2 separate regions of the Homo sapiens genome follow, and region 2 is linked to region 1. The links come from fine-mapping of genetic effects on plasma protein levels. A gene starts in region 1. The other region holds a variant in brackets. All regions are shown on one strand. Distances are between the middles of the regions.

Region 1 (6,630 bases):
AAACTGGTATAGCACCAATGCCAATGGGCCCACCACTGGGACTGGGCCAGCTCTCCTGTGAGCCACTTGGCAGCCAGGCAGACCTCATGTCCAGCTGGGGGCTGATGGGCACTCAGAAGTGTCCTTTTGCTTTGGCTCAGCCTCCATCCTGCACTACTCAGAGCAGCAGCCCAGGAGTGCCATCCAAAGACAGCTTCTACTCACCGGCGACAGCCACCAGGGCCAGGGTCAGGACCACGGCCTTCAGGAACATCCTGAGCTGCTTGCTGGGCTGGAGGAGTTTCTTGCCACACTGGATCCTCCCTACAATCAGGGGAGCTGACAGAGAGGTCCTCAGGAGAGCTCACCTGCGCTGCAGTGGGAACTGACTGAAGCTCAGAGCCAGCCAGACATTTAAACTCTCTCCCTATCGCCACCCCCCTGGCTGCCCTCCCCTCCTCCTTCCTCAGTGTGACTCCACGCTGGAAGGTGACACATTCCCAAGAGGCCTCTTGGACTTTTGTGACCCTGAGACTACGTGGAAGCTGACAGCAGATCAGGGCTCAGGCGATAGTTAGAAGTGGTGGCTGTTCCGTGCGTGGGCACCCCCACCCCCACCCCACCAACCTCAGCATGGAAGGGAGGAGGGGAACGGAAAACAGTAGGAGAAACACCTCAGGGAGCCCATGAGCCCGGGACTGATGCCTCGAGGCCCTGCTGGCGGCTCTGGGTTTGTGCCGGGCTCATGGGGGGCAAAGTCCACATCTCCTCTGTCTACCCCAGTGAAGACAGGTCCCCCCAGTCTCCACATCCGCCACTAATGCTGACTCCATCTCAGAGCACCAGACACTGGAGTGGGACCATCCAGGACTGCAGACAGCATAGTGAGCTAAAATCTAGGTCTCTTGTCAAGGTACACCCAAGAGGAGGGGGCCCTGGAGAGCCTTTGGGCAGATGGGTGTGGGAGACAGGGCCTTGTCCTGAAAGGGTTAATTGTAGAGTGCTTCATGTCCCACTCCCATGCTGTGCCTCCTTGGTCTAGTTATTCAAAGCCCTGAGCTTCAGTTTCTCCTCTGAACAATGGGATGGTTCAGTACATTAAAGAAGACATTGCTTGCGAAGTGGGTAGTACGGTCATCTCTCAGTCTCCATGGGAAATTGATTCCAGGACCCTCTGCAGATACCAAAATCCATGGATGTTCAAGTCCTTGATATAAAATGGCATAGTATTTGCATATAACCTAAGCACAGCCTCCCACATACTTTAAATCTCTAGATTACTTATAATACCTAATACGACGGAAATGCTGTGTGAATGGTTGTTATACTGTATTGTTTAGGAGGTAATCACCAAAAAAGTCTGTATATGTTTAGTACAGGTGCAATTTTTTTTTTTTTTGAGATGGAGTCTTACTCTGTCACCCAGGCTGGAGTGCAGTGGCACGATCTTAGCTCACTGCAATCTCTGCCCCCCAGGTTCAAGTGATTCTCCTGCCTCAGCCTCCTGAGTAGCTGGGATTACAGGCACCCACCACCACGCCCAGCTAATTTGTGTATTTACAGCAGAGACGGGGTTTCACCATGTTGCTCAGGCTGGTCTCCAACTCCTGGCCTCAAGCAATCCTCCCATGTGGGCCTCCCAAAGTGCTGGGCTTATAGGCGTGAGCCACTGCGCCCTGCCCAGATGCAATTTTTTTAAAACATTGTTTTTAATGGAGATGGGGTGTCGCTATGTTGCTCAGGCTGGTCTCCAACTCCTGGCCTTAAGTGATCCTCCAATCTCTGCCTCCTAAAATGCTGGGCTTACAGGCATGAGCCACTGCACCCGGCCCACAGATGCAATTTAAAAAAAAAAATATATATATATATATATATATATTTTTTTTTTTTTTTTTTTTTTTGAGATGGAGTCTTGCTCTGTCACCCAGGCTGGAGTGCAGTGGCACGATCTCGGCTCACTGCAAGCTCTGCCTCCCGGGTTCACGCCATTCTCCTGCCTCAGCCTCCCAAGTAGCTGGGACCATAGGCGCCCGCCACCACGCCCGGCTAATTTTTTTTTTTTTTTTTGTATTTTTAGTAGAGATGGGGTTTCGCCGTGTTAGCCAGGATGGTCTCGATCTCCTGACCTCGTGATCCGCCCGCCTCAACCTCCCAAAGTGCTGAGATTACAGGCGTGAGCCACCACGCCCGGCCTAAAAAATTATTTTCAATCCAAGGTTGGTTGAATCCATGGACACAGAAACCAAGGATACAGAGGGCTGCCTATAGAGCTCCTGGCACAGAGTAAGCTCTGAAAAATAGTTGCTGTTATTATAATAATCATACTGTATAATAATCATACTGTGTTCCTGATTTGGAGCAAAGCAGGGAGGGTAGCAGAGTGCTCCCTCCTCTAGTGAGAGTGGCAGAGTGAGACTCAGCCCTCTGAGGGGCGCCAGGTGGGCCAGAGGCAGGGTGATGGGTGGGACCAGCCTGAGGCCTGACTCCTGCCCTTCTTGCCCCCCAGCCACACTCCCTGGGCAGGAGCAGCTGGCTTGAGCAGAATCTTGGGACCTGAGGCTCTCAGGGGACCTCCCATTGGGGGATGGAGGGCAATGGTGGTGGTGCCCAGGAGGTCTTCTACTTAGATGTCTATTGGATCTCTAAATGAGGCTGCATGCATAATCACACACAAACATCCACTGAGAAGGTGACACACCACGTCAGCATGGGTCCCTCTGCCGGACCACACCACTCCTAGTGACTATGAGGTGACATCCAGGCACGTTGCACTATTGGCTCCTGTCGGTGAGTGCAGTGCCTGACAACAGTGAGCTACATTTATTTGTAAAAATGAACGCCATCAGAGTAGACCACAATTGTACTAACTCTAATTTGCTTTGTGTTCATTTTTTCAGTTTCCAGAAGTGGCTTAATGTTTCCTAGGGTCAAAGGCAGTCAAATGACCTCCTGACTCTGGCACCCCTTCTGCTGGGTCCCCACTGCCCTGTAGTGGTCCCCACGCTACCATGCTGCCTCCTTTTTGATGCAGCCTGTGCCATCTCTCCGTGATTGTTGGGGTCAGATGCTGGAGTCCACTCCCTGGCTTGGCATCCAGGCTCCAACACGTACTGCCTGTGTGTCCTTGGGCAAGTCTCATAACCTCTCTGAGCCTCAGTTACCTTGGTGAGACATAACCATTGTACCTGCCTCCTAGGCTGTGAGGATTCACTGAGATGATCTTATAGTGCTTGCAACAATGTCTGGCACATAGGAAAAGTGATCACTAAATGTTAGCCACGTCTTACTCCTGCAAGGCTCACCTCCCTGGAACCCATCGGTCCCAACCCTGCTCCTGAATCAGGCACAGTCCAGCTTGCAGCGGGAGCAAAGGTCAGTACTCAGTGCCCCTGTCCCTTCCCCAGGCCAGAGGGGAGGAGGAGACTGAGTCACGAATGACACCTCAGCCGCAGTTTGACCTCCAGGACTTACAGTCCTAGCAGCCGGTGCCACTAGCATGTGAGAGGTCCAGAGGCGCTTCTGTCTCACCCGCCCGCCTGGGTGCACCCATGCTGGGAGCGCCTGCACCATTTGAGCATGTCCGAGAGCATCCACCAGAGTGTGTGTGGATTCACAGAAGTGTGCAAATCACTAAGAACCAAGGGACTGGCACAGCCCATGCGTGCACCCACGCTCGCGAGGGGACCTGCTGCCTTTCAACGTGGCGGGGACGTGACCTGTTAATGAATGTATTTACTTCCCAAAGTCTGAGGGTACGTTTTGCATCAATCTGTAGATGGATTTGTTTTGGGGAGCAGGGAGAGAATGAGAGCCCCCTGTGCTCAGTCTTAGAGGGTGCAAGTAGCTGATGGGAAGAGCAGACTGCCTTCCAGCCAGGCCTGGTCCTGTGAGTCAGGGACGTCCATCTTAGTGGGCATGAAAGGCCTGTGTGATCTCGAGGGAGACATCGCCTCTCCAAGCCTCTCCTTATCTGTGCAACAGGCAGACTTAATGATTGGTGAGGCAATGAGGCTGATAGCTCAGCATTAGCTACAGCCACCCCTCCTGGCCAACCACACAGGGATCAAACCAGGGGTCAGTCCAGAGGTCAGAGTCAGGAGCAGACAACTCAGATCCAGCCAGGGACAGGCAGGTCACACGGACATGTGCCTCACGTATGCTTCAAGGGGCCCTCCCCCGGGCAGAACTGAAGGACAGCTCCTGTTGCCATAGGAGGGAGCTGGGTGAGATACTAGGAGGAACTTCCGGCATGATGATGTGTGATGAACAAGGGCCTCTGGCCAACAGGTCTGAATCAGGGCTGCCCAGCCCAGCCTGGTGGGAAGGGCATGGAGCATGGGGGCTCATGTACTAAACCTCACCTGGACACAAGGTGAAACAGCCCAACCCCAGAGGACCATTTTTGGCCCCGGATGGTCAAATCCCCTCTTCCTCCCATCTACCACTGGCTTCTCCCTGGAGCAGTCTTCATCCCAGGGGAGCCATGATGGGAGAGAGGGGCAGCGCAGGCTGGCCACCAAGAGATCCCCTGCCGGGGTGCAGGTTGGACTGTTGGTGAGGGGCCACAGGTATTCTCAGGTACCAAGCCCTTGGAAGGAGACAAGGTACCAGGCTTCCTGGAGGTGTGCTACATCTAGCTCAGCACCCTGCCAGGTCTCTCTACCCACATGTCCTGACCTCCCTGGGTCCGTTGCCATGCGGGAGAGAGAGGCCAGGCTCCTCCAGACCCTCTGCAGAGATGGAAAGGCTTGGAGGGTCTGGGGCCACGGGACCCCGCCAGCCCATTCTAGCACACCCGGGCCCATAGACCTTGTTGCCTGCCCCTGCCTGGATCTGGGTCCCCACTGTGCCTTTGCCTCTGGGGCTATGGAGCAGGCCGCAGCAGAAGAGGAAAGGGCATCCCCAATACCAAATCCTCCAGTGACCACTTCTTCACCTTCTACCCCACCACCAAAGTCTGCAGGAGACTTGAGACAGGTTTGTTCTGGGCGTGTGACTGATGCCTCTATAGGGGTCTCAGTGCTCTAAGCCGTCTGGTATTTGCCTGGGGTGTGTGAAGACCTGGATTAAGGTTCCCAGCCTTACTACTAATGGGCTGTGCACTTGGAGCCCTTAGAGCCTTAGGTTTCTAACCTATAAAATGGACTTAACGTCTACTTCACAGGGTTCTATTTGCATTTTAACAGAAAACAAAGTCTTAAGTCAAAGGAATGAATCTCTCTCTCTCTCTCTCTCTCTCTTTTTTAGACCAAGTCTAGCTCTGTCACTGGAGTGCAATGGTGCGATCTCTGCTCACTGCAACCTCCACCTCCGGGGTTCAAGCAATTCTCGTGCCTCAGCCTCCTGAGTAGCTGGGACTACAGGCGTGCATCACCATGCTCGGCTAATTTTTTGTATTTTTAGTAGAGACTGGGTTTCGCCATGTTGCCCAGGCTGGTCTCGAACTCCTGGCCTCAGATATCCGTCCGTCCCAGCCTCCCAAAGTGCTGGGATTACAGGCATGAGCCACTGTGCCCAGCCAGGAATGGATCGCTAATAGAGGAATTCCAAGTCTCACCCACCGATAAAGAATTCTGAGGGCAGAGCCGGGCCACTTTCTCAGGCCTCTGATTTCATACTGTGGTGTTAGTTACTTCTGAGAGGACAGCTTGCTGCCAGAGCTCTATTTTTTATGTTAGAGGCTCCTTCTGCCTGCAGACTCTGCTGTCTGGGAAGGGCACAGCGTTAGGAGGGAGAGGGAGGTGTGAGTCCCTCCATGGACCCGCTGCTTTGTACTTCTCTATCTCATTTCCTTTTCAGCACCACTCTGGGCAATCAGTATTCCAGCCCCATTTTATCCTCAGAAAATTGAGGCTCTGAGATGTTATCTCTGTGACCTGGGTCCTATTACGTGCCAAAGGCATCATTTAAGCCTAAGATGTCCTGGCTCCAAGGTGTCAGCATCTGGAAGACAGGCGCCCTCATCCTGCCATCCCTGCTGCGGCTTCACTGTGGGCCCAGGGGACATCTCAGCCCCGAGAAGGGTCAGCGGCCCCTCCTGGACCACCGACTCCCCGCAGAACTCCTCTGTGCCCTCTCCTCACCAGACCTTGTTCCTCCCAGTTGCTCCCACAGCCAGGGGGCAGTGAGGGCTGCTCTTCCCCCAGCCCCACTGAGGAACCCAGGAAGGTGAACGAGAGAATCAGTCCTGGTGGGGGCTGGGGAGGGCCCCAGACATGAGACCAGCTCCTCCCCCAGGGGATGTTATCAGTGGGTCCAGAGGGCAAAATAGGGAGCCTGGTGGAGGGAGGGGCAAAGGCCTCGGGCTCTGAGCGGCCTTGGCCCTTCTCCACCAACCCCTGCCCTACACTAAGGGGGAGGCAGCGGGGGGCACACAGGGTGGGGGCGGGTGGGGGGCTGCTGGGTGAGCAGCACTCGCCTGCCTGGATTGAAACCCAGAGATGGAGGTGCTGGGAGGGGCTGTGAGAGCTCAGCCCTGTAACCAGGCCTTGCCGGAGCCACTGATGCCTGGTCTTCTGTGCCTTTACTCCAAACACCCCCCAGCCCAAGCCACCCACTTGTTCTCAAGTCTGAAGAAGCCCCTCACCCCTCTACTCCAGGCTGTGTTCAGGGCTTGGGGCTGGTGGAGGGAGGGGCCTGAAATTCCAGTGT
Region 2 (17,172 bases), 20 kb before region 1:
GGGTGGAAACAACCCAAATGTCCATTGACAGATGAATGAATAAACAAAATGTGGTATATACAGACAACAAAATATCACTTAGCCTTAAATAATGACAATCGGGGGCCAGGCATAGTGGCTCACGCCTGTAATCCCAGCACTTTGGGAGGCCGAGACGGGCAGATCACTTGAGGCCGGAAGTGCAAGACCAGCCTGGCCAATATGGTAAAACCCCGTCTCTACTAAAAATACAAAAATTAGCCAGGTGTGGTGGTGCATGCCTGTCATTCCAGCTACTTGGGAGGCTGAGGCACGAGAATTGCTTGAACCTGGAAGGCAGAGGCTGCAGTGAACTGAGATTGTGCTACTGCCCTCCAGCCTGGGTGACAGAGCGAGACTGTGTCTCAAAAAAAAAAAAAAAGAAAAGAAAAGAAAAGGAAATCTGACACATGCTATAACGTGGATGACCCTTGAAGACATGATGCTAAGTGAAACAAGCCAGTCGTAGAACGACACATACTGTGATTCTGAGGTATCCAGAATAGTCAGATTTGTAGAGACAGAAAGTATAATTCTGGTTTCTAGGAGAAGTGAGGAAGGAGAAGGTATTGGTTAATAGGTACAAGTTTCTGTTTGGGAAGATTAAAAGTTTCTGGAGCTAGATAGTGGTGCACAACAGTGTAAATGTATTTAGTGCTACTGGGCTATATACTTAGCTACAATGTACAATAGCTACAATGGTAATTTTTATGTTATGTATATTTTGCCACAATTTAAAAAGGAATTTCTCATACTCTAATGGTTTTTTGCTGATAACCCAAACTTAAAGAGCCTGTGCTGTAAAATACAACTGCGCTGGATTGTCTTTTTGCAAATAGCATTATCAGTGCCCTTTCTAAGGTCTTTTATGAGATGCAGAGGGGACACTTGGAACTATTAATACATTTTCTAGAATCCCTTCTCTATATGAGCCTAGGTTAGAGTCAGCCAGCGTGAGACGGAAGAGGAGAGGCCATTATGTTTCAATGCCGGTTGCAGACAGAAGCATGGACAGGCTTGGAGTTTAAAGCAGCTTCTGGGTGACCTTCCCAGGAATCACATGCATTGATATTGCAGGCATAATAAGGCGAGCTTCCCATTTGTAGCCACTTACTAATGAGCGTTTGAGAGTCACTCCTTCTGAACTGCAAACCAAGGTGGTCACTCCTCCAGCCCTTCCAAGAGTTGGATAAACCTTTAATTTTTTGTTTTAAAGCCTTTCATACTTGAAATACGTGGAATGGCTTTTGTTTTTCTGACTGAACCTGGATTGATACAATGGGTAGATGCAACACACACTCATGCTTCCCTGTTTGGTGGCATCTTATAGTTTCAGTGTTGAACATGTTTTGAGTTGGTTGGAGGTATATGTATATGTGTATGTGGTATGTGCTTTGTGTGTGGAACCATTTGAAATAATTATAGCCAACATGACACTTCACTCTGAATACTTCAACATACATTGTGAAAAATAAGGACTCTTTTACAAAAGAAAAAAACATTATCATACCTTTGAAAATTAACACAATTCCTTAATATCATCTAACATATCCTACATATTCAGATTTTCCCCAAAATGCTTTCATAGTTGTTTTTCTCTCTCTGTAAATTCAAGCTCTAACACATCTCATCTGGTTGTTATCCCACTTTAGTTTTTAAATTTAGAACCGTTCTCCCCAACCCCACCATTTGTTTGTTTTCATGACATTGATTTTTTTTTGGAAGAGTGCAAGGAGGACATCTTGTAAAATGTCCCACATTCTGGATTTGAGTGATTACTTTCTCATGATTAGATTAAGGTTAAACATTTTTGGCAAAAATACTAGGTGATATCTGGCCATTCTTACTGTATCCTAGCTGGAGGTTGCACTCTATTTAGTGATGTTAAGTTTGATCACTCCGTTAAAGTGATAACAACCAGATTTCTCCATGGCTAGTAAAGTTTGGTTTTTTACGTTATTGATAAGTAATTTGTGGAGCAATACTTTGAAGCCATGTGAGCATCCCATTCTGCAACAATTTTTCACCCAATGGTTTTAGCATTCATTGATGATCCTTGCCTGAATCGAATATTATCCTGAGAGTTGCCAGATAGTGATTTTTAAAAAATTCTAGGCCAGGTGCAGTAGCTCATGCCTGTAATCCCAGCTCTTTGGAAGGCTGAGATGAGAGGATCACTTGAACCCAGGAATTTGAGACCAGCCTTGGCAACATGGCAAAACCTGTCTCTACAAAAAAAAAAAAAAAAAAAAAAAAAAAACTAAAAATAAAATACAAAAATTAGCCTAGCATGGTGGCACACATGCTTGTAGTCCCAGCCACTCAGGAGGCTGAGGTGGGAGGATCACCAGAGCCTGGGAGGTTGAGGCTGCAGTGAGCCGTGATCAAGCCACTGCACTCCAGCCTGGGCCACAGAGTTGCCCAAAACAAAATGAAAACTTAAAGAATTCCATCATTCCAGCTACATTTATTATCCGATTTCTTCTGTAAGTAAGAGCTTTTAGGGAACTTGTTCTTAAATCCAGAGACTTTGAACAGATTCCTTCCAGGTGAACTTGTTTGTGCTGCCCTTTCCTTGACTGTCGTTTTGTATCACAGTGTTTGCGGATAGCTGCATTTTTAAGAGAGTTGCCCCTCTATTTTGTTTTGTGTTTTTGTTTTTTAATACACAAGAATTGCTGACTCATTCTGGATGTGTAGTAAGAAGGATTTTAAAATGTAGATTGGTAAAGGTTAGCAGGTACCTTATTCCTTACTGCTCAGCAGCAGCACTTTTGCCTTAAACACATGGATTAAGCAAGTGTATGGGTCTCAAATAGACACTTGATATGCACCAAGTGAGAAGATCTTCTAGAGTCTTTCTTTTGTGACCTGTTCTTTAAAGCAACATTATGACTTCTCCTTCTGAACAGTAAGTATTTTTTTTTTTTTTTTTTTTTTTTTGGCAGAGTCTCACTCTGTCACCCAGGGTGGCTGGAGTACAGTGCTGTGATCTCGGCTCTCGGCAACCCAGTCACTTGGGTTCAAGCGATTCTCCTGCCTCAGCCTCCTGAGTAGCTGGGATTACAGGCGTGTGCCACCGTGCCTGGCTAATTTTTGTATTTTTAGTAGAGATGGGGGTTATTCCATGTTGGCCAGGCTGGTCTTGAACTCCTGACCTCAGGTGATCCACCCACTTCGGACTCCCAAAGCTCCCAAAGTACTGGGATTACAGGTGTGAGCCACCACACCCGGGCCAAGTAAATCTTGTTACAAATTGTTCTCCTTCAGTCTTGTCTTCTAAGAACTCAGATGTAAACTGTGAGGTAGCAGTCTTTACTTGGTGTTCCTGGACTCCATCTCAGAACGCACCAAAAACATCTATATGATTGTGGAGCCACTCTACATTGTTTCTACTGCTATCACCAGACCTTAATGGAGGTGTGGGTTTTTTAAAAATCAATATACATCTCAAATACATTTCAGAAAGAAAGGTGTTTATGCTTAACGCAGTGTTAAAACTATCCCAGCAAGAAAGTAGTAACCTGTGTAAGCATTTTTTTGTTTCTTTGCTTGTTTGTTTATTTGTTTTTGAGACAGGATCTCACTTTGTCACCCAGGCTAGAGTGCAGTGGCATGATCACAGTTCACTGCAGCCTCAACCTCCCAGGCTCAAGCAATCCTCCAGCCTCTGCCTCAAGCAATCCTCCAGCCTCTGCCTCCCAAGAATCTGTAGTTTCTGGGACTACAGGAGTGTCCCACAACACCCAGCTGATTTTTTATTTTTTTGGTAGAGAAAGGATCTCACTATGTTGCCCAGGCTGGCCTTGAACTCCTGGGCTCAAGCAATCCTCCTGCCTCAGCCTCCCAAAGCACTGGGATTACAGGCATGAACCACCATGCCTGGCCTTTTGTTTGTTTTGAAATAAGTTCTATTTGTCAAAAAGAAAGAGAATTAAATAGAACATCTATAAGTGAAAAAAATATAGTCATTATAATATAAAACACATTTAGCTACAGTTGGAGAGAGAATTAGTAAGCTAGAAGGTAGATCTGAGAAAATCACACAGAAAGAATCACAGAAATAAAAAGGAGGATATTGACCAGGCACGGTGGCTCATGCCTGTAATCCCAGCACTTTGGGAGGCCGAGGCGGGTGATATTGGCCAGGCATGGTGGCTCATGCCTATAATCCCAGCACTTTGGGAGGCCGAGGTGGGTGGATCACCTGAGGTCAGGAGTTTCAGACCAGCCTGGCCAATATGGTGAAACCCCGTCTCTACTAAAAATACAAAAATTAGCCGGGCGTGGTGGTGCATGCCTGTAATCCCAGCTACTTGGGAGACTGAGGCAGGAGAATAGCTTGAACCTGGGAGGCAGAGTTTGCCGTGAGCCAAGATCATGCAATTGCACTCCGTCCTGGGCCACAGAGCAAAACTCTGTCTCAAAAAAATTAAATATAAAAAGGAGGGTATGAATAGACGGTAAGAGACATGGAGGACAGAATGGGAGGTCCAATATATGCCTGTAGGATTTCCACGAAGAGAACACAGGGACTGTGGAAGAGGCAATATTCAAAAGATGATGGCTGAGAAATTTCAAACATTGAAGCAAGATGTGACCGGAATCCTCAGGTACAGGAAGCATCCTGAGTCTTGGTAGGAAAAATTAACACACAACCAAATGAGGACACATCGCAGGAATCTGCAGAACACTGAAGGCAATGGATATCTTAAAATCAACCAAAGAGAAAGACTAATGATCTACACACGAAGCATGATTAAACCGGCAACTGATTTATCATCAATGTACCTTCTAAAGACTGAAAGGAAATTAATGGCCAACCAAGACTTATACTCAGGTGAACTATTATTTGAGAGGAAGAAGTTAATTTCAGAGAAAGAGAGTTTACCACTCACAGATCCTCACTGAAAAGAACTACTAAAAATCTGAAAAGGAAACAGAACCCAGAAAAAAGGAATAGGATAGAAGGAGACATGGGGAGCAATGAAATTAGTAAACGTTTAGGTAAATCCAAAAAACATTAGTGAAAATACACACACACACACTTATGAGACTAGTTTTCACTAAAAATTGGTCAAATAGTGGCAATTTCATATAGTTCTACCTAACAAAAATGTATTTACACATAGTTTAGTTTGTGGGGGTTTTGTTTGCTTGTTTGTTTGTTTGTTTTTTGAGACAGGGTCTCACCGTTGCCCAGGATGGAGTGCAGTGGTGTAATCACTGCAGCCTCGACCACCCTGGGCTCAGATGATCCTCCCACCTCAGTCTTCTGAGTAGCTAGGACCACAGGCATACACCACCATGCCCAGCTAATTTTTATATTTTTTTGTAGGGACGGGGGTCTCGCTATGTTTCCCAGGCTGGTCTCGAACTCATGGGCTCAAGCGAGCTGCCCGCCTCGGCCTCAAAAGTGTTGGGATTACAGGTGTAAGCCACCCTACACCTGGCCAAGTTTATCTCATTTCCTACTGTACTCCCAGTGCCTAGACCAGTGCTTATCACATGGTAGGGAGGGCTCAAAAACATCTATTGATGAAGGGACTACTTTGGAGGAGGTGTTAAAAGTAATGAGGAACTAAAATATCAGACCGAAGCAACCTGGAAATGGGAAAGGAGAGATCAAAGTGAAAGCATTCAGCAGCCTTTGCATTATTCGGGAGGAAGATAGGGATATTGATTATCTATAGACTTTGTTAGGTCAGACAAGAATATTAAAATTTTAAGGATAACCCATAAAACGAATAGAAAGAATGGATAACTTTTAAACTAGTATATGGGGAAGAGAGACTAAAGAGCATCCGATTGACTTCTAGTAACGGACGGTGGATTAATTGCATGCATTAGCCTCTGCTGTTCTCTGAAATCTCAATAACGTGGCATTGAAGTGCACTTTTTACAAAATGCATAAACCCAAAGGGAAAATAGAAAAGGAGACAAAAATAACAACATTTGGGAAGCTGGAAAGCTTCCAAATGATCAAACGGTGGTGACAGGCACACCTGACATGAATTTTGAAGCAGCAGTGGAGAAAGCCAAGAAGGCCCCTGATTTTCACTACTAAACTCTCCAAATGCTCTGACATTAGTGTCAACATTCTTCTGGAAGAGTGGGTGGCAGTGGGACTAGAAATATGGCAGTTGGTCGAGAGTCTGTTTGAGAAGCAGCTGTTCTCTTCAACTCTACTTGGCTGGGTACCCCCAAAGCAGCAGAAAACCAGATGCTTATTCTCTCTGAAAAGGGTAAAAGAGTGGGACTCCGGCCTGGAGAAAACTAGGTATTGTTGGGGGCCAGGGTTTTTGTGCTAAGAAAAATTAAGGAAAACTTTATACATTAAATTTTGAGGCTGGGCACAGTGGCTCATGCCTGTAATCCCAACACTTTGAGAAGGCAAGGCAGGAGGATCGCTTGAGCCCAGGAGTTCGATACCAGCCTGGGCAATGTAGCGAGACCCAGTCTCTGCAAAGAATACAAAAATTAGCCAGGTATGGTGGCACCTGTGGTCCTAGCTACTCAGGAGGCTGAGGCAGAAGGATTACTTGAGCCCACGAGTTAGAGACCGCAGTGAGCCATGATCATGCTACTGCTCTCTAGCCTGGGCGACAGAATGAGACCCCATCTCAAAAATAAATTTTTTTAAAAGACTCCTCAGTTCACCATCTTTCCCCATATTGAAAATGGAACAACATTCTCCCTGAGAAATTTGGCTGGCCCAAGGAAATAGGCCTAAAGAAACTGACTTTTGGGGGTTCCCTGCTCTCCAGATGGTCCCTCCTAAATTGAACCATGGACTCAGGATTTCACATCAGCTTCTTCTAATTTATGCAGCTTTCTTCTAATTTACTGTGGGGTTTTTTCGGTGTTTTTTGTTTTGTTTTGTTTTTTGAGACAGGGTCTTGCTCTGTCATCCAGCTGGAGTGCAGTGGTGTGATCATAGCTCACTGCAGCCTCAAACTCCTGGGCTCAAGTGATCCTCCCACCTCAGCCTCCTAAGTAGCTGGGGCTACAGGCATGACCACCACACCTGGCTAACTTTTTAATTTTTTGTAGAGGTGGGGGTCTTGACATGTTGCTCAGGCTGGTCTTGAAATCCTGGCCTCAAGCGATCCCCCTGCCTCAGCCTCCCAAAGTGCTGGGATTTCAAGCATGTGCCACTGTGCCTGGCTAAGAATACTTAAAGGTGAAGTGAGAAGTTCACATGATGTCATATCAGGAGGTACACAATGGCTACTTGTCCCACTAATAGCAATCCTTAGTTTTTTCACTTCGTGAGGTGGTCACTAGCAGACCTCTTGGTTGGAAAGATAGGTTATTTCCCTTTGTAATTAACAAGTAACAGAATTGGGATACTTTGGCATCTTAAAATACCTTGGCAACCTGATGAACATAGCATACATTCAAGATTTTTGCCTGAATTAATTATTACATTAGAAGAGTTGCAGAATGAGAATGTTCTAATTCTACTATTTCTTTTATATATTTCAGCTGATGTTATTCTATGAAGAAAAGCTCCCTCATCAGTGAAGATGAACTGCACTTCTTTCTAAAGAGGCAATGTCAGACGGGCACGGTGGCCTATAATCCTAGCACTTTGGGAGGCCGAGGAGGGTGGATCACCTGAGGTCAGGAGTTCGAGACCAACCTGGCCAACATGGTAAAACCCTGTCTCTACTTAAAATACAAAAATTAGCCGGGCATGGTGGCACATGCCTGTAATCCTAGCTACATGGGAGGCTGAGGCAGAAGAATCGCTTGAACCTGAGAGGCAGAGGTTGCAGTGAGCTAAGATTGTACCACTGCACTCCAGGCTGGGTGACAGAGTGAGACTCTGTCTCAAAAAAAAACAAAACAAAACGAAACAAAAAAACAGTTGACAGTAGTTGTTTTTGTAGAGTGAAAAATAGAGGTGGGGGTTGAGATACTGCTGCTATTTTAAACTAACTTGTAGATCTGTTTGACTCTTTTTTAAAAAACAATTTTTTGGAGAGATGAAGCCTTGCTATGTAGCCCGGGCTGCTCTCAAACCCCTGGCCTCAAGTGATCCCCCTGTCTCGACCTCCCAAAGTGCTGGGGTTACAGACATAAGTCACCACACCTGGCTCTGTTTGACTCTTTATGTGCAGTTTGAACTTTTTAACTGAATTTTTTAAAAGGTGTGAAATTAGTCTTTAAAGGAACACAAAACCAACAGAGAAGCAAGCAGGAAGATACAAGAAGCAAAGAAATATCATAGTAAAATGAAAATACAAAATAATATGACATAAATAAAACAGTAATCACTATCAAATTAAATAGATTAAGTGAGCCCACAAGGCATTGTCTCTGGGACTAGTCCGCTGGGTCGAAGTCCTGCCACTTATTGGTTCTGTGACCTTTGGCAAATTAACTTCTCTGTGATTCCATTTCTTTCTTTTGTTTTCTTTCTTTCGTTTTTTTTTTTGAGACAGAGTCTCACTCTGTCACTCAGGCTGGGTGCAGTGGTGCAATCACCAATCACAACTTACTGCAGCCTCCACCTCCTGGGCCCACG[C/G]GATCCTCTCACCTCAGTCTCCTGAGTCCCTGGGAACACAGACATGTGCCACCCTGCCAAGCTAATTTTTAAATTTTTTGTAGCGATTGGGTCTCACTATATTGCCTAGGCTGGTCTCAGACTCCTGAGCTCAAGTGATCCTCCCGCCTTGGCCTCCCAAAGTGCTGGGATTACAGGCATGAGCCACTGCACCCAGCCTCAAACTCTGTAAAAGGGGAATAATGATAATACTTGCCTCATAGGGCTTGTGGGAAATAATGCTTTATTACTGTAGGTTAAAAAGCACACAAACATGCTTGACACAGTAGGTGCTACATCAGTTTACTATTGTTGTTGTTTTCAGATTGGATTTTATAAAAACTCTACTTATTTGCAATTTATAAGAGGCATACCTAAAATATAATGTCAGAGAAAGGTTAAAAAGTGGAGCCAGGGAAGGAATTTAAGAAGACATACCAGACCAATAGTAATCAAAAGAAAGCAGGTATGCAATGTAACATCAGAACAAATAAGCTTTGCTTATTTGGATTGATAGGGATAGATAGGATTGATAGGGATAAAGCAGATCATTATTTAATGATCAAAGAAGAAATTTGGCTGGGCGTGGTGGCTCACACCTGTAATCCCAGCGCTTTGGGAGGCCGGGGCAGGGGGATGGATCACAAGGTCAGGAGTTTGAGACCAGCCTGACCAAAGTGGTGAAACCCTGTCTCTACTAAAAATACAAAAAATTATCCGGGTGTGGTGGTGCATGCCTGTAGTCCCAGCTACTCAGGAGGCTGAGGCAGGAAAATCATTTGAACCGGGGAGGCAGAGGTTGCAGTGAACTGAGATCGCACCACTGCACTCCAGCCTGGGTGACAGAATAAGACTCTGTCTCAAAAAAAAAGAAAAAAGAAGAAGAAGAATAAATTCACTGGGAAGATAAAACAATTCTGAACCTGACAACATAGTCTCAAAATACGTAAAGCAAAAAGCCACTGAGTCCCAAAGAGAACTTGACAAATTTGGTAGGAGATTTTAATACCATTTCCTCAAACTGATGGAATCACAGAAAAAAAATATAAGAACAAGTCAGCAAACTTGATATGGAAAGAACAGCATCCCCACCTGAGAGTCAGCAGCCTCCATGCAGGAGGACCGAGGGGAAGCCAGGGAGCAGGGCAGCCTGAGCCAAGGCCAAGCCCAGTTGAGGACAGGAAGTGGAAGGAGGCACCTAGGAAGGCTGAAGATGCAGAGGAGTGTGTTCCAGAGGCAGTGGGAAAACTGGGAGGGAATAGTTCTCGGGATGTTGGATAGAGAGAATAAGCAAAGAACAATGCAGGAAGAAGAGTGGGGTGGGAGGCCGTGACCTTGCTAGAGAGCCTTATGTTTTGGGCTATGACCAGGGCTGACAGAAGTGTGAGGCATGGCGGGTTCAGAAGAGAGATCAATGATGCATCGCACATCTCTAAAGCTGATGAAGGCAGCAATTGGCACTGAGGCCAACCTGGTTGGGACTCAGAGAGGTGGGACACATATTGTGTGCCAGGCACCCTGCCACATCTTGGAGAGAATAAGACACAAACCCTCATCTAGTGGGTTGGGGAAATGATGCAGGGCTCAGTGTGGCTAGCGCGTTGGGGTGGGAAGCAGCCTGGGCACGCCCACAAGGCTCTCTGCCTTCCAGAATCTGGCCCAGTTGGGTTTGAAAAGATTTAATGACAATGAGCTCTCTATGGACCTACCTTGTGCCCAGTATTTACCTTTCTTATCTGTAACGCTCAAGTCAATACTCTAAGGTAGGAATTGTTATCCTCATTTTATTTACAGAGAAACTGGAGTTCAGAGAGATTCTTGCCCAAGGTCTTGCCCTGGGCCAATTCCAGGTCTATCTAACTCCAAAGTCCATGCTCAGTACACTGTCTCCTGCTTGGGAGCAAAGAGAGGACTTTGCTCCTAAGACCAGACCCATACCACAAAGAGCCTCAACACTTAACTACTGGGAGAAAACACCGTCCTAAGTAAAAAGCCAGGTGCTCTTCCCCTTACCCCAGGGGGTTTAGGATTTGGGAGAAAGAGGCCTGATGGAATATAGGGGTACCAGGTCCATGTGTTAACTGATCTGGGTACAAGAACAGTAACTCAAGGCCAGCCAGGGAAAGAACAGCCAAGCCGAGGCACAGCTGCCAAGTCATCACCTCTCGTTCCTTGTCCCACCATGCCTTGTCTCAGCACGAACATAACCCCCTCAGTTTCCCTCTTCTCCTGTCTCCTGCATAGGCAGAACCAGTTCTGAGTGATAGCCAGGACAGCAGGTCCTCGGGTCCTCAGGCTTGCCACTACAACCTGTTTACCCTGCGCAGACCATGATCCATCAGGTCGAGAAATGCCCCACTGCTAGATGTTTGTGTCAAAAATGCCTGCCGGTGGTGCAACAGCTGGGTGGGACCAGTGACGTGGACTTGAGTGCCACAAAATGTACCGAACACATTCTGAGTCAACATAGTGATGGTGTGCCAACTCCAGATAAAGATTTTCATTATTATTTGTTTGGGTTTTGTTTATATGTACTCCTCTTCATCACCAAAGATTTGAGGCTACAGAAAATGAAAATTGAAATGGTAATAAAAGAGAGGGGCTTGCAGAGAGGACCACAGGATGGGGAAAATAGAAATAATCGCAGAAAATCATGACCCGATGAAGAGCACAATCATAGAAGCACTAACAGATGACAAGGTTGCCAGATCTTCACCATTGGTTTTGGGTTTCGTGAAAACCCGCGAAGAGAGGGATTCAGTCAATTACATATTTTTTTTCCTTCTTTCTTTTATTTTTATTTTTTATTTTTTCTTGAAATGGAGTCTCATTCCGTCACCAAGGCTGGAGTGCAGTGGTGCAATCTTGGCTCACTGCAGCCTTCACCTCCTGAGGTTCAAGCCATTCTCCTGATTCAGCTTCCTGAATAGCTGGGACTACAGGCATGAACCACCATGCCTGGCTAATTTTTGTATTTTTAGTAGAGACTGTCACACGCGAGACAGGGTTTCACCATGTTTGCCAGGCTCTTGAACTACTGACCTCAAGTGACCCGCCCACCGCAGCCTCCCAAAGTCCTGGAATTACAGGCATGAGCCACCGTGCCTGGCTTGTTTTAATTTTTTATTATAAACAACACTGTGATGAACATCCACATAGCTAAATGCATGCATTCCATGATCATTTTCTTAAGATAATTTTTTTCTTATTATTTGTGTATTTATTTATTTATTTTTGAGACGGAGTCTTGCTCTGTCACCCAGGCAAGAGTGCAGTGGCACAATCTCGGCTTACTGCAACCTCCACCTCCCAGGTTCAAACAATTCTCCTGCCTCAGCCTCTTAAGTAGCTGGGATACAGGCACAAGCCACCAAGCCCAGCTAATTTTGTATTTTTAGTAGAGACAGAGTTTCGCCATGTTGGCCAGGCTGGTCGCCAACTCCTGACCTCAGGCAATCGCCTGCCTCGGCCTCCCAAAGTGCTGGGATTACAGGCGTGAGCCACCTCACCTGGCCTTAAGATACATTTTTGAAGGGAAGAACATTTTCTGTCCAAGTACATTCCTGTTCACAAACCCTTTTCCATAACACTGGAGACTTCCTGGGGAGGTTGGAACCAATGGCTTAGACTCCAAAGGAATGAATGTACCATAAAGCTTTCAGCAATCTTCTGTCAATGCTACTTGTATAGACTTCCAGACAAACATTGAAGATTGAATGCATGCATCTAATTTCACTTTTTTTTCCTGAAATCCTCCTGAAACTATAATGAAGAAATGTTTGGGAAAAGATGTAGCCAGGCACTGTGGCTTATGCCTGTAATCCTAGCACTTTGGGAGGCCAAGGTGGGCAGATCGCTTGAGTCCAGGAGTTTGAGACTAGCCTGGGCAACATGGCGAAACCCTGTCTCTACTGAAAAAATACAAAAAATCAGCCAGGCATGGCAGACCTGTAGTTCCAGCTACTCAGGGGGCTGAGGTGTGAGGATCACTTGAGCCTGGGAGGTAGAAGCTGCCGTGAGCCCTGATTGTGCCACTGAACTCCAGCCTGGGCGACAGAGTGAGACCCTGTCTCAAAAAACAAAAAAAAAAAAAAAAAAAAAAGAGACGGGATCGGGAAAAGGAAGAAAAGACCACAGCACAATTTTGGATGTTAGAAAGCAAATGGACCAGTTGTGACTGATTTAGCCGGCCTTGGGAATGCTGGTCATGAGCTGGCAGTGAGAAAAGATGAGTTCCAGCCTGACTTACACCGCTGGATTCTCAAAAGGCGAAGAGATGATAGTAGGGCTCCTGCCAGCCCACGCTGCACCTGTGTGTGCAATAGAAACAGCCTCCCCTTTCTCAAGACACTCTACAGCCGTCTGCCAGAAATTTGACATGATAAATATACAAATCTGTCATGTCTACCCTGTGAGGGAGGTGGCCTCAGAATGATACAGTGCACAGCTTGCACAGCCATATATGACTGTCCTGAATTGGGACACCAGTTTCTACTGAAAGTAGAGGTGACGGAGGAGGCTGTCATAAAACATGAAAGATTGGTTGAAACTATTTAAGGAGCAGTTAGAGCTTTAGCTTCCCTGTCTCACCTTAGTAGAAGACTGGAAGTTTATTCTCTTGAACGTCAGGCAGAGTTGAGGGCAGGAGACCTGTACTAGCAAGAGGATTAAATCAAAGTATACCCTCTGAAATGCTGAATCACCCTCCTGCTTCTTCCACTTGGCCCCAGGGACACTGTATTCAGGCCTTTACCCTCCAGGCAGAAGAGTGAAAGACATTTCTTAGGGGAATATGTCCAGCTCAAGAGGTAAGACCCAAAGATTTTCACAATGGGGTTCCCCAGCTAAACATCTCAGTGGATCACCCTGCAGTGACATTCATAGTCAATAAGTACTACGCACGTATTGGAGCTTCAAATCACCTTTAAAATCTCCCATTCTTTTCTTTTTTCTTTTTGAGACAGAGTCTCGCTCTGTCACCCAGGCTGGAGTGCAGTGGTGCGATCTCGGCTCACTGCAAGCTCTGCCTCCCGGGTTCACGCCATTCTCCTGCCTCAGCCTCCTGAGTAACTGGGACTACAGGCACCTGCCACCACGCCTGGCTAATTTTTTGCATATTTAGTAGAGACAGAGTTTCACCATGTTAGCCAGGATGGTCTCGATCTCCTGACCTCGTGATCCACCCACCTTGGCCTCCCAAAGTGCTGGGATTACAGGCGTGAGCCACCGCTCCCAGCCCAAATCTCCCACTCTTAAACTTAAGCAACCAAGGATTACCAGTCATTTGAGGAAAGATTCTAACATGAAAGATAGAGACCCAAAACAAACAAATATTTAAAAAGGAAGTTAGAGAAAACTGAGAATATACAGAAAGAAGAACATTGAAAAATGCCATTAATAACATCAGAGAATGAAAAGATTACATTGATTAAACAAGAACAGGATAGTATAAAAAGACCTTCACAGAATAACAATAACAAAAACTCTTAGAAATTAAAAAAAAGATAGTAGAAATAAAAACTGAATAGAGAGTAAAGAAATAGTTCAGAAAGGGAGAGCATGTAGAGATTGAAGTAAGAACAAAGATAAGAAAATGAGAGGATCCACGCCGGGCGCAGTGGCTCACGCCTGTAATCCCAGCACTTTGGGATTTAATATAAATATATTAAATATTTTAAATAATATAATTTTAAATAATATAAATATATTAAATATATTAAATATTTAAATATATTAAATATTTAAATCTTTTTGTCTTGCTGAGTTGTATGAGATATATATATATTTATATATAAATATAGATATAAATACATATAAATATAAAAATATATATATATCTCATACAACTCAGCAAGACAAAAAGATTTATTAAATTCATTCAGTCAACAAATATTTATTGAATACCTACTAAGTTCTAGTCATCATGCTAGGCACTGACTGTTCAAGAATAAACATAGACAAGACTTCTGCCCTTTCAGAAACCAGCCAAGATTCTTCAACCCAAGGCAGCTGTGAAGTATAACACATCTCTGGCTCAATTTTCTCCATATGGTTTGGGGTTCCATGAATGAGTCTGTGGGAAGATTTCCTGTACGTAGAATGCATGTATAAAGGAATAATTATTCTATGGTTCGAAAGAGAAAAAAAGTAAGATCAAAGTGTAGAAGCTATGTTAAGAAAGATTCCAGTTTAATGATTTTTGAAAGAGCAGTAAAAATAAGACCAAGATGTGGAAGCTGTATTGAGAAAGATCCAATTTAATTCTAATAATCTTTAACAGAATTGCCCAAAGATAGAATGAATTGTTTTGAGAGATGGTACAGTTAGCTGTCAGTGGGAGTGTTCAATACTAAGCAAGATTCACTCGCTCAACCATTGAGTGATGACCACATGCAGGCACTGTGCTAGGCTCTCTGTATTTTCAGTAAGCTATTGTTGTACAACAAAGCACCCTAAAACAGTGTCTTAGAACAACAGTAAATGTTTATGATCTCTCACAAAGTCTGTGGGTCAGCAGCTTGGCTGTGTGTTTCTGGTTCAGAGTCTGTCATGAGGTTGCATCTGAAGGCTTGGCTGAGGCTGGAGGATCTGTTTCCAAGGTGAATCACTTTACATGGCTGGCAAGTTGGTGCTAGCTGTTTGGAAGGGGCTTCAGTTCCCCCCTGTGTTGACCTCTTCACAGGGCTGCTTGCACGTCCTCCCAACATGGCAGCTATCTTCCCTCAGAATGAGTGATCCAAGAGAAATCAAGGTAGGTGCCACAATGCCCTTTATGATCTAGACTTAGAAGTGAAATACCATGACATAGCCTATTGATCACACATCAGCCACCATTGTGAGGGCTAGCTACCACATCCTGCAAATACAATGATGAACAAACAAATGGTGTGCCTGAGCTCGAGGGCTGTTAGCCTAGAGTTAAGATCATTCCTTAAATGATATCAAAGGAATTAGGGCTGAGAGACAAGGTTGTTCCCTCCAACCCTAATGCCCTGTGATCTTATGATTCCAGGTCCTAGGTCTTTTGTTCCCATATCACCAATCCATTATCTCAGAACCAGCAGCTCACCAAACCCTCGCTCCTCAGATGTGGGCCATTCGGGGGTTTTTATTGTGCCCCTGCATTGTCAGCTACTTGTCATCACACAGCAAGATAGCATGACTCCACCCTGCACGCTCTCAGACAGGAGACAAGGGAGTGCCCAAATAACCCTAAGCTTGTTGTTTCTGTCCCCAGGACATACCTCAGCCTCCTCCTGGGAGCACAGGGCATACTATGATAACAGCAGGAGGACACGGCGTCCCCATGCAGGAGCTGCTTTTGATCCTGCCAGGACAATCCCTCAAGAGCAGCAAGGCCCTGTATGTACAGGAAGAGAGTGGCCCTCAGATCACTTCCCTTTGCCCTAATCAGGGCCACGTAGTACACCAGAGACCTCAGGGGTAGTGACCCTGGATGTTCTCAGAGGACTTCTGACCTTTGAACTTGGGGATGGGCATAGGAGTGTGGCTAGCATCTCAGCCTGGCCCAAACCAGTGCTGGTCAGCATGCCTTTGAGGCACTAACCCAGGCCCACAGAGGAGTCATCTACTTCCAAGTCACCTGAGGAGCCAGTGGTGACCAGGGAGATAATGGCCTGAAATTGTGCTGGCTCTGAGGGACTGTTGGGTAAGCTAATGTGGGCTGGGCTGGAGTTCAAACACACCTCCCTGGTGCCCACAGGGACCTCCCAGCACACGCTCTCCTATGGGTCTCAATGATTCAGTCTTTCCTGGTGGCATAGACTGTAGCCTGGAGAAGCTCTGGGGAATATTTCTTTTCTTACTTATTTCTGGTTTTAAAAGTACTACTCTCAGGATGACTATTGTTAAAAACAAAATAAAACAAAACCAAAAAATAACAGAAAACAACAAGCGTTGGAGAGGCTGTGAAGAAATTGGAACCCTGGGCGTCACCAGTGGGAATGTGAAATGGTGCCACTACTATAAAAAAACAGTTTGGCGGTTCCTCCAAAATTTAAATATAGAATTACCGTGTGACCCAGCAATTCCACTTCTGGATATTTGCTCAGAAGAATTGAGAGCAAGGACTGGAAAGATATGTGTACACCCCCATTCATAGCGGCAGTTTTCACAATTGCTTAATGGATAGAGTTTTCTGTTTGGGGTGATGAAAAGATTTTCAGAAATAGTGGTGGCGGTGGTTGCACAACATTGTAAATGTAATTAATGCCACTGACTTGAACACCTATAAATAGTTTAAATGGTAAATTTTATGTTATAAAAGTAATACTAAAGTGGTGGCATTTTTTTCTTTTCTTCTTCTTCTTTTTTTTTTTTTTCTTGAGACAGGGTCTTCCTCTGTTGCCCAGGCTGGACTGCAGTGGCATGATCTCAACTCACCCCAGCCTCAACCTCCTGGGCTCAAGCAATCCTCCCACCTCAGTCTCTCGAGTAGCTTGGACCACAGGTGTGCACCACCACACTTGGCTAATTTTTGTATTTTTTGTAGAGACAAGTTTTCGCCATGTTGCCAGGCTGGTCTCGAACTCCTAGGCTCAAGCAATCCACCTGTCTCAGCCTCCCAAAGTGCTGGGATTACA

Which allele goes with the higher level. Positions count from the first base shown, and alleles are read on the strand shown. Strength reflects both the effect of a copy and how common the allele is.
For the plasma level of the protein whose gene starts at base 366 in region 1, allele G in region 2 goes with a higher level than allele C (moderate association).

Evidence for each region. A credible set is the group of variants that fine-mapping cannot tell apart. PIP is the chance, under the fine-mapping model, that this variant and not a neighbour inherited with it causes the effect. The UK Biobank Pharma Proteomics Project read protein levels with antibody pairs (Olink). The fine-mapping took linkage between variants from a reference panel, not from the people measured, so its PIPs are less certain.
Region 2: its variant is the best candidate, but not a certain one, in a credible set for the plasma level of the APOA4 protein (UK Biobank, PIP 0.68).

What each region holds. Positions count from the first base shown.
Region 1 is chr11:116,822,939-116,829,568 of GRCh38, forward strand. It overlaps APOA4 (apolipoprotein A4), which reads right to left and starts at 366. Exons shown (of 3, transcript NM_000482.4): 1 at 205-366. The coding sequence starts at 253. RefSeq lists enhancers at 2,354-2,720, 2,575-2,869, 6,489-6,630.
Region 2 is chr11:116,798,103-116,815,274 of GRCh38, forward strand. It overlaps LNC-RHL1 (lncRNA regulator of hepatic lineages 1), which reads right to left and starts at 16,080. Exons shown (of 2, transcript XR_007062898.1): 1 at 15,814-16,080; 2 at 14,807-15,351. The variant C/G (reference allele first, on the strand shown) is at 8,552.